2 separate regions of the Homo sapiens genome follow, and region 2 is linked to region 1. Evidence: fine-mapped expression QTL. A gene starts in region 1. The other region holds a variant in brackets. All regions are shown on one strand. Distances are from middle to middle. Region 1 holds the start of DOCK6 (dedicator of cytokinesis 6). Region 2 overlaps TSPAN16 (tetraspanin 16).

The links.
Region 2: its variant is fine-mapped to the expression of DOCK6 in T cells (TOPMed, PIP above 0.99).

What each region holds. Positions count from the first base shown.
Region 1 is chr19:11,259,767-11,265,092 of GRCh38, forward strand. DOCK6 (dedicator of cytokinesis 6) reads right to left here and starts at 2,758. Exons shown (of 48, transcript NM_020812.4): 1 at 2,631-2,758. The coding sequence starts at 2,674. RefSeq lists silencers at 2,333-2,472, 2,553-2,612, 2,683-2,842.
Region 2 is chr19:11,314,523-11,319,891 of GRCh38, forward strand. TSPAN16 (tetraspanin 16) reads left to right here. Exons shown (of 7, transcript NM_001282509.2): 7 at 1,269-1,445. The coding sequence ends at 1,316. The region is part of intron 1 of TSPAN16-AS1 (TSPAN16 antisense RNA 1); the gene reads right to left. Among named protein-coding and RNA genes, the nearest start is that of TSPAN16-AS1, 4.1 kb to the right of the region's middle. The variant C/G (reference allele first, on the strand shown) is at 2,017.

The DNA.
Region 1 (5,326 bases):
GAGACGGAGTTTCACCATGTTGGCCAGGCTGGTCTCGAACTCCTGACCTCAGGTGATCCACCTGCCTCGGCCTCCCAAAGTCTGGGATTACAGACCTGGGCCGCCGCGCCCGGCCTTTTTTTTTTTTTTTTTTTTGAGACAGAGTCTTACTCTGTCACCCAGGCTGGAGTGCAGTGGCACGATCTCTGCTCACTGCAACCTCCACCTCCTGGGTTCAAGTGATCCTCCTGCCTCAGCCTCTGGAGTAGCTGGAAGATTGTCTAATATTCGGGTTAATCTGGTATTTGTGGAATAAATGACTGAATGGATGAACAGATGAATATAGGACCAGCTCTGAGTATGTAGACACCTGGGTGCCCAAGAGCGAAGTTGCTCTGGAAGCCCTGGGCCACTCCCTCACAGTTCACTAGGGCCCCAGGATCATTCTCTACTCTTACCCTGAGCTCTACAGTATCCAAAACCCCTCTTTCTCACTTGAGTAAAAACCAGGACCCAAGGACATACAGACCAAAATGCAAAGAAACAGACAGCAAGCTGGGCGCAATGGCTCACGCCTGTAATCCCAGCATTTGGGAGGCCGAGGCAGGAGGATCACTTGAGCCCAGGAGTTTGAGGCCAGCCTGGGCAAGATAGTGAGATCCCGTTTCTACAAAAGGTTAAAAAGTTAGCTGAGTGTTGCAGCATACACCTGTAGTCCCAGCTACTTGGGAGGCTGAGGCAGGAGGATCACTTGAGCCCGGGAGATTGAGACTGCAGTGAGCCAAGGTATCACCACTGCACTCCAGTCTGGGTGACAGAGCAAGACCCTGTCTCAAAAAAAGAAAAGGAAAAAAAAAAAAAGCCTGGGTGCAGTGGCTCACACCTGTAATCCCAGCACTTTGGGAGGTGGGCGGATCACCTGAGGTCAGGAGTTCGTGACCAGCCTGGTCAACATGGTGAAACCCCCTCTCTACTAAAAATACAAAAATTAGCTGGGTGTGGTAGTGGGCGCCTGTAACCCCAGCTACTCAGGAGGCTGAGGCACAAGAATCGCTTGAACCCAGGAGGCGAAGGTTGCAGTGAGCCAAGATTGTGCCATTGCACTCCAGTTTGGGTGACAGAGCGAGACTCTGTCTCAAAAAAAAAAAAAGAAAGAAAGAAAGAAAAGAAAAAGAAAAGGAAAGAAAAAGAAACAGACAGCAATAATGTTTGCAGCCTCAAAGACGCCAAAGGTCTAAGACATTTTGAAAGCCAATTTACAGACAAAGATAATGATAGAACATAAAAATTGCCCAGCCATTACGCCCCAGCCACCAAGTCTCATCCCTCCTCTGCTGAGAACTCCCCATGGCTCCCACCTCACCTGGGGTCCAAAGTCAAAGTCCCTTGCACAGCCCACACGACCCTGTACATTCTACTCTTACTGTCCCCCTCCAGCTCTCTGTTCCTGCCTCAGGGCCTTTGCACAAACCCTTCCCACTCTTTCCCCCCACAAACTGGCCTCGATCGATCCCTCTCTCATCTCCTTGAGGTTTTTGCTCAAAGGCACCTGCTCATCCAGGCCTTCCTGACCCACCTCCCGCATCTCAAGCAGCCCCCACCCTCCCATCCCCCTTCCCTGTCTTCTTGTCCCTACAGCACTTGTCACTGACAGGTAATCTACTCGATCAGGCTTCTGGTCTCTCTCCGCCACTATATCCCAAGAGGGGGATCTTTTGTCTCCATAAGACCAGGGCCCAACCCACAGGGCAGCTCTTTCACCTGGGGGCAGTCAGGACAGGTCCCCCGGGGAGAGGATACCTGAGCTTCTGAACGCACCCTTGTCGCAAAGACCCCCCGCCAACTGGGGGCGAGGCTTTTCAGCCCCAGAGAGTCTGATATACCCCTCCCAGGCTGTGACTCTCACAATCCCCAGTGGCCACGGAAATGGATCCCCCAGCGCCTGGGGCCTGTCCCCTCCCCCGTCTGCCCACCAGCTGGTTCTGTCCCCAGCCCCCACTCCCTCCATTCAATCACCCATCCATCCCCAGCGCGGTCCAGCCCGTGACGGGAGAGCCTGAAGCAGAAGGTGGGGGGGCGTCCACAGCTGTCCCCCTTCCCCCCCCCCGACAGCTGGGCACTGGACCCTGGAGGGGGAAGGGCACGGGAAACTCCTCGAGGGGTTTCAAACGCCACCAAGGAGCCCATCTCTGTCCCCAAATCTCAGAGCCTGGAGCCTCCCTGCCCCAAACCAGGCACTGAGGAAGGAACAGAAAGTCCGGCCCACCCCGATCTCCGAGAGCGCGGGGACAGTGAGGGGCCGAGAGGCGGACGGGGAGCGCAGGGAGTTCAGGGGGCGCCCGTCATCCGCATCCCCACGCCACCTCCTCCGGGAAGCCCTCCGGACACACCCCCGCGCGTCACGGAGGCAGAACGGCAGCCGCCATCGCGCTCCCAGCCCCGACGCGACTCCCATCTGGGACCCCCGCCGGGACCCCCGCGGCCCTCCCCGCCTTCTCCCGCTCCCAGCCCCGGCCGGAGGAAGCTGGCGGGACCCGGGCCGAGGCGGAAAGGGGTTGAATTGGGGGCGCCCGGGCGGGGAGGGTCGCACCGCCCCGGGGCGGAGCCGGGCCACGTGGGGGAGGTGGGAGGGGGCCCCGCGGCCACACTACCTGTTGATCTTGTGCGCGAAGGCGCGGCGCTCGGAGGCAGCCATGGTCCTCGCGTCCCGCCGCCGCCGCCCCGGGCCCCGGCCCCGCCGCCGCCGCCGCCTCCCGGTTCTGGGCAGCCGGGGCGGGGCGGGGCCGGCGCGGGGGCGGGGCCCTTCCGGGTGGCCCGGGCCGCTCCGTGCTGCCCCTGCAGGCCGGAGGGGTCGCCTGGAGTCCTGGGGGCTGGGGAAACTGAGGCTGGGGACGGAGAGGAGGCCCCGGGATCCAGGCTGGGCGGGCCCCAGACTCCCGGGCTGGGGGGACGCTCTTTCTACCCTAGGAGAAGGGCTGGGGAAACTGAGGCTGAGGAGGGAAGTTAGGGAGAGGAGGCGCTGGGACCCAGACTGGGGGTGCCCCAGACTCCCGAGCTGGCGGGGGCGCTCTTTCCACCCTGGGAGCTGGGCTGGAGAAACTGAGCCTGAGGAGGGAGGGAGGGAAGGGAGGCGCTGAGACCCGGGCTAGGTGGACCCCAGGCTCCCGGGGTTTAGTGGGGTGGTCTTACCACCCCAGGAGCAGGGCTGGGGAAACTGAAGCTCAGGAGGGAGGGAGGGAGGGGAGGCGCTGGGACCCAGGCTGGGTAGGCCCCAGATTTCCGGGGTTTGGGGGGCGCTCTTTCTGCCCTCTGACTCCTGGCTGGAAAACAATAACGATGTTCATGTATCTAATAATCATACCTGTAAGTATAATCGTGGCCGTGCATGGTGGCTCATGCCTGTAATCCCAGCACTGTGGGGGGCCAAGGCAGGAGGATTGTTTGAGCCCAGGAGTTGGAGACCAGCCTGGGCAACATAATGAGACCCCGTGTCCACAAAAAATGCAAAAATTAACCAGGCATGGTGGTGTGTGCCTGTAATCTCAGCTACTTGGGAGTCTGAGGGAGGAGGATCGCTTGAGCCTGGGAGGTCAAGGCTGCAGTGAGCTGTGATTGTGCCATTTCAATCCAGCCTGGGTGACAGAGCGAGACCCTGTCTCAAAAAGTCTAATTGCTAAGATGTCATTGAGCCTGGCCCTGCAATTCACACATGCAGAAGAAATTATTGTTTTCCTCCTTTTACAGATGAGTAAACTGAGGCACAGAGGTGTTCGGGTGCTTGCTCAGTGTGACTCACAGGGGTCTCCAGCGCCTGCATTGTCCGTGCTCCCAGTCTACAGCATGGGAGTCAGAGGAGCCTGGCTAGGCACTGGAGTGCTCGGAGATGTGCCCCAGGTCCAGGTGGTGGGACCTGAGTGAGCCAGTTTGGGAGTCTAGACTTTCGGGGCCGCCTCTACCAAGAGGAAGAGGTGGGGATGTCTTGGTTAATCTATGGTCTCAAATCTCTCCCCACTGGCCTCTCTCCCAGCACTGCTGCAGCATTTTTAGAGAATTCTCCAGCCGACACTCCCCTCTGGAGGAGCTCACCCCTTTCTCACCTGCATGCCTCTGCACCGGCAGGTCCTTCCTCCTGGACAGCCCTTCTTTCCCTGGTCAGCAAATGCCCCAGGGAGAATTTGAGGTTGAATCAGACAAGGCCGTGGCTCTGCCTCAGGGCCTTTGCACGTGCTGTTCTCATTCCCATCTATGGGTTGCTGGCATTTTATCCTCTATTATTTATTTATTTATTTATTTATTTATTTATTTATTTATTTATTTATTTTGAGGTGGCATTTCGCTCTTGTTGCCCAGACTGGAGTGCAATGGCACAATCTCGGCTCACCGCAACCTCTGCCTCCCAGGTTCAAGCGATTCTCCTGCCTCAGCCTCCCGAGTAGCTGGGATTACAGGCACCCACCATCACACCTGGCTAATTTTTTGTATTTTTAGTAGAGACGGGGTTTCACCATGTTGGCCAGGCTGGTCTGGAGCTCCTGACCTCAGGTGATCCACCCGCCTCGGCCTCCCAAAGTGCCGGGATTACAGGAATGAGCCACATGCCCACCCTGAGTCACCATGCACCCCCGAGACACAGTTTCTTGCCTTGCTGCCCAATGAATCCATGTCAGACCTTGAACCCACAGGAAAGAGGCCTGGATTGTAGGGGAACCCCCAAACCCTGCCAGTCAGACGCAGGATAGCATCCTGCTAGTCAGGCCGCAGTAGGGCTGCTCACAGCCTGGCATGTGACATGTGCACACAGCCCACGTGCCTGCCCGGAGTGGTCCAGCCACTTTGGCCAGGTGGAGCTCCGCCCATCACTCCCCGCCATGCCCCACCAAGTGTCCCCGCCTTGCCTCTCAGGCTGCTGGGAGCTAGGCTGGGCAGGAAATATGCAGATGAGCGAAGATTTGCACATTTCTTAGCCTAGTTCCAGTCCAGCCCCCTTTATATCCGGTCTCCCAGCTTCCTTTCTCATCCTCCCCCCAGCTTGTTCCTGCATCAGTGGCCAGGAAGAGCCTGGGAACACCTGCATCACTTCAGTTCCCTCCTCTGTTCAGAACCTTCCATGGCTCCCACCTCACTCAGGGTAAAAGCCAAAGTCCTCCCACAACCCGCCGGGCACAGTGGCTCCCTGTCATCCTGGCACTTTGGGAGGCCGAGGCGGGTGGATCACTTGAGGTCAGGAGCTCCAGACCAGCCTGGCCAACATGGCAAAACCCCGTCTCTACTAAAAATACAAAAAATAGCCGGGCATGGTGGTGGGAGCCTGAATCCCAGCTACTCGGGAGGCTGAGGCATGAGGATC
Region 2 (5,369 bases), 55 kb after region 1:
TTTTTTTCATTGTACAAATTTATAATATTGAATATGTACTTGTAAACTATACAACACCTTCCTCCCCAAGGATCCCAGCAGGAAACAGCATTCAGCCCCCAGATGGTCCATTTAAGATGTTTTCAGGGGCCTCCTTGCAGAGGGGTGACAGGGTTCAGTGAAATGAGGCGCCCAGGAGCTAAAGACATGGGGAACTTTTATTTCTCCTAGGCCTGAAGGCTCTAGAAAGGGCATGAAGAGGGTAGGAGCCCAGAAGGAGGGGAAGAAAAGAGGGAGGAAGTGGGGAAGGAATACCCTACCATTCTCTCCTCCCGCTCACCCGTCTTCTCCCGGTGCTTCCTATTGGCCAAGCCTAACCGGAAGTTATGTGGCAGTGGAGTCTGGGGAATATGGTCCGTAGGGCTCCGGGGAGGGCCGAAGTGGAGAGGATGGGCCAGGCGCGGTAGTTCACGCCTGTAATCCCAGCACTTTGGGAGGCCGAGGCGAATGGATCACCTGAGGTCAGGAGCTCGAGACCAGCCTGACCAACATGGTGAAACCCCATCTCTACTAAAAATACAAAAATTAGCCGGGCGTGGTGCTGGGCGCCTGTAATTCCAGCTCCTCGGGAGGCTGAGGCAGGAGAATTGCTTGAACCCGGGAGATGAAGGTTGCAATGAGCCAAGATAGTGCCACAGCACTCCAACCTGGGCAACAGAGTGAGACTCCTTCTCAATAATAATAATAATAATAATAATAATAATAATAATAATAGGCCAGGCGCGGTGGCTCACGCCTGTAATCCCAGCACTGTGGGAGGCCGAGGTGGGCAGGTCACGAGGTCAGGAGATCGAGACGATCCTGGCTAACACAATAAAACCCCGTCTCTACTAAAATACAAAAAAATTAGCCAGGCGTGGTGGCGGCCGCCTGTAGTCCCAGCTACTCGGGAGGCTGAGGCAGGAGAATGGCGTGAACCTGGGAGGCGGAGCTTGTAGTGAGCCAAGATCCGCCACTGCACTCCAGCCTGGGCGACAGAGGGAGACTTCATCTCAAAAATAAATAAATAAATAAATAAATAAAATAATAATAAATAAAAAATAAGTGGAGACGAATGCACTGTAACCACAGTGGCTCCAACTTAGCCCAGGCGGTTCTTCAGCCATCTGTAAAACCCTGCCCCTCGCCTTTCTGGAACAGGATGCTCCCCTTGTCCCCGTAACTCCAGTATGATTCTGGTTTGGAGGTCTCTAGCATTGGATCCATGTTTCTTTCTTCACGCATTTCAGTTGCCAGGAATTCTTGCCACTTTGCTGCTGTTTATCAAGCTGGGCTGACACCCAGGCCTGGAGAAGATGAGACACCTGGGCCCATCTGGCTGCTGGAGATTCAGTCTCAGTTTTATTTCTCTGTGGCACTCACTGCTTCTGGAGGGGAGACTGTTAATAAAAGATTTGGGAACCCCCTGTCCAGCCTGACTTCTTTCTCCTTACTTTCATTTTTGGCAATGATTTTACCTCAAAATGCCTGAATGAGAGACTATGCCCTTTCTCATACAACTTTCCTGTTTTGTAAATTATTCTTGGTGTGTGTGTGTGTGTGTGTGTGTGTGTGTGGTTTTTTTTTTTTTTTCCTTTTGAGAGAGTCTTGCTGTGTTGCCAGGCTGGAGTGCAATGGCACGATCTCAGCTCACTGCAACCTCCACCTCCGGGGTTCAAGTGAGTCTTCTGCCTCAGTCTCCCGAGTAGCTGGGATTACAGGCACTCGCTACCATGCCCAGCTAATTTTTTGTATGTTTAGTAGAGATGGGGTTTCACCATGTTGGCCAGGCTGGTCTTGAACTCCTGAGTTCAGGTGATCCACCTGCCTCGGCCTCCCAATGTGTTGGGATTACAGGTGTAAGCCACTGCACCCAGCCAGTTTTGTAAATTATTCTGTGAAAAATCTAGAACTTTCACAAAAGCCAAGAACATCCATCCAGAGAAACATACACATCACCCAGGTTCAACAATGCAAAGATTGACATATTTGCTTTAT[C/G]AATCCCCTTTTTACCCTTGATAAAGTATTTTTTCTTTTTTAAATTGACAAGTCATAATTATATATATTTATAGGGTACAATGTGATGTTTTGATATATGCATACAATGTGGAATGATTAAATCAAGCTAATGAACATATCTATAGGCTCACTTATCATTTTTTTGTGGTGATACATCTGTGATCCCAGCACTTTGGGAGACTGAGGTAGGAGGATCGCTTGAGCCCAGGAGTTTGAGACCAGCCTGGGCAACATAGCAAGACCCCCCCCGCCTTTTTTTTTTTTTTTTAAGATGGAGTCTTGTTCTGTCACCCAGGCTGGAGTGCAGTGGTGTGATCTCGGCTTATTGCAACCTTCCCACATTCTGGGTTCAAGCAATTCTCCTGCTCAGGCTCCCATGTAGCTGGGATTACAGGCGCCTGCCACCACGCCTGGCTAATTTTTTGTATTGTTAGTAGACATGGAGTTTCACCAGGCTGGTCTCAAACTCCTGCCCTCAAGTGATCCGCCTGCCTCGGCCTCCCAAAGCGCTGGGATTACAGGTGTGAGCCACTGTGCCTGGCCTGACTCCATCTCTACAAGACAACAACATCAACAAAACCCTCCAAAAAACAAACCTCAGACAATGTCATTTCTTCCCTTTATATTTCAGTACACATCTCTAACGATATGTTCATTTGCGTTCACAACCATAACACCGTTATCACATCTAGGATAATTAACATTGCTTGTTTGGCATCCCTTAATACCTAGGCCATTGTTGAGTCTTCCTAATTGGCTCAAAACTTTTTTAAAGGGACAGGGCCTCACTCTATCACCCATGCTGGAGTGCAGAGATGTGATTGTTGCTCAGGGTAACCTCTAACTCCTGGGCTCAAGGGAGTCTCCCATGTCAACTTTCTAAGTACATGGGACTACAGGCATGCGCCACCACACCCAGCTAATTTTTTTTCTTTTTTCTTTTTTCTTTTTTGAGACGGAGTTTCGCTCTTGTTGTCCAGGCTGGAGTGCAATGGCACGATCTTGGCTCACTGCAACCTCAGCCTTCCGGGTTCAAGTGACTCTCCTGCCTCAGCCTCCTGCCTAGCTGGGATTACAGGCATGTGCCACCATGCCTGGCTAATATTTGTATTTTTAGTAGAGACGGGGTTTCATCATGTTGGCCAGGATTGTCTCGAACTCCTGACCTCAGGAGAATTGCTTGAACCCAGGAGGTGGAGGTTGCAGTGAGCTGAGATCATGTCATTGCACTCCAGCCTGGGCGACAGAGCAATACACTGTCTCAAAAAAAAAAAAAAGTGTGAAATGCTTGGGGAGTGCCAGATGTTCTGGGCTTACTGCTTTCTTTGTGGTTTTGGTTATTTACCCTGTTCCTCTTGTCCACATATTTCCTGAAAAGCATGAGTTACCAGCCCTGGCTGTAGATTAGAATCACCTGGAAGCTTTAACAAACTACCTAAACCTGAACCACAGATCCTGATCTTTTATTATTATTATTATTTTTTTGAGACAGAGTCTCGCTCTGTCCCCCAGGCTGGAGTGCAGTGGCGCGATCTCGGCTCACTGCGAGCTCCGCCTCCTGGGTTCACACCATTCTCCTGCCTCAGCCTCCCGAGTAGCTGGGACTACAGGCACCCGCTACCATGCCCGGCTAATTTTTTGTATTTTTATAGAGATGGGGTTTCACCGTGTTAGCCAGGATGGTCTCGATCTTCTGACCTCGTGATCCGCCCCCCTAGGCCTCCCAAAGTGCTGGGATTACAGGTGTGAGCCACCACACCCAGCCTAATTTTTTGTATTTTTAGTAGAGACGGGGTTTCACTTTGTTAGCCAGGATGGTCTGGATCTCCTGACCTCGTGATCTGCCCGCCTCAGCCTCCCAAAGTGCTGCAATTACAGGCGTGAGCCACTGCGCCCGGCCAGATCCTGATCTTCTAATTTAATTGAACTGGGCTGTGACGTGGGTCTGGGGATGATCCTAGTGGTTTTTAAGATATAGTCATGGTCACAGCTGAGCATCAATGAACTCAGGGGTTCATTCAATGACCATAGCATCCTGAACCAATTCTTTCAGAAGAGGTTGCAAAATGGTGGTTTATCTAATTCCTTTTCTTTTTCTTTTTTTTTTGAGACAGTCTTGCTCTGTCGCCCAAGCTGGAGTGCAGTGGCACGATCTCAGCTCACTGCAACCTCTGCCTCCTGGTTTCAAGCGATTCTTCTGCCTCAGCCTCCTGAATAGTTGGAGTTACAGGTGCCCGCCACCACACACGGCTAATTTTTGTATTTTTAGTAGAGACGGGGTTTTGCCATGTTGGCCAGGCTGGTCTGGAACTCCTGACCTCAAGTGATCCTCCCACCTCAGCCTCCCAAAGTGCTGGGATTACAGGCGTAAGCCACTGCCCCCAGCCAGAAATAAACTTTTTTACCCACACTTCTGACACCAAACATGTGGGGTTTTCCACACCAAGTAATTCTCCAATTCTCTGTGGACACCCGCTGGGTGTTCTACAATTCAGTTCTGACACCAATTACCCAGAGTTGGTGTGTGACCCCACAGATTTAAGGGCTGAGTCCCACAAAACTGAGCTTCCCTCACTTCAGAGGTATCAAGTATTGAGTTCCCAGGTTACCCATATTTCTGTCCAATGTGGCTACAAAGTCAGGGGGGGTTCTCACAAGCCCCCTCCCTTTCAGGTTTGATAATTTGCTAGAATGACTCACGGATCTCAGGCAAGTGTTTTACTTACTACTCCTGATTTATTATAAAGGAGACAACTCAGGCCAGGCGCAGTGGCTTATGCCTGTAATCCCAGCACTCTGGGAGGCCAAGGCGGGCGGATCACGAGGTAAGGAGTCTGAGACCAGCCTGGCCTATATGATGAAACCCCGTCTCTACTAAAAATGCAAAAGTTAGCCGGGCGTGGTGGCACACGCCCTGTAATCCCAGCTACTCCGGAGGCTGAGGCAGAAGAATCGCTTGAACCGGGAGGCGGAGCTTGCAGTGAGCCGAGATCGCGCCACTGCACTCCAGCCTGGGCGACAGAGCGAGACTCTGTCTCAAAACAAACAAAACAAAACAAAACAAAACAAAAAAACAAAAAAAGGAGACAACTCAGGAACAGCCAAATGGAAGTGATAAAGAGGGCAATGTGTGGGGGATGGTGTGCAGCACTTCCACACCCTTTCTTGGGGAGGGGGGCACCACCCTTCCAGCACCTCCATGTGTTCATCAACTCAGAAGCTCTCCAAACCTGTCATTTAGGTTGTATTTTGTTTTGTTTTGTTTTGTTTTTTGAGACGGAGTCTCGCTCTGTCGCCCAGGCTGGAATGCAGTGACGCGATCTTGGCTCACT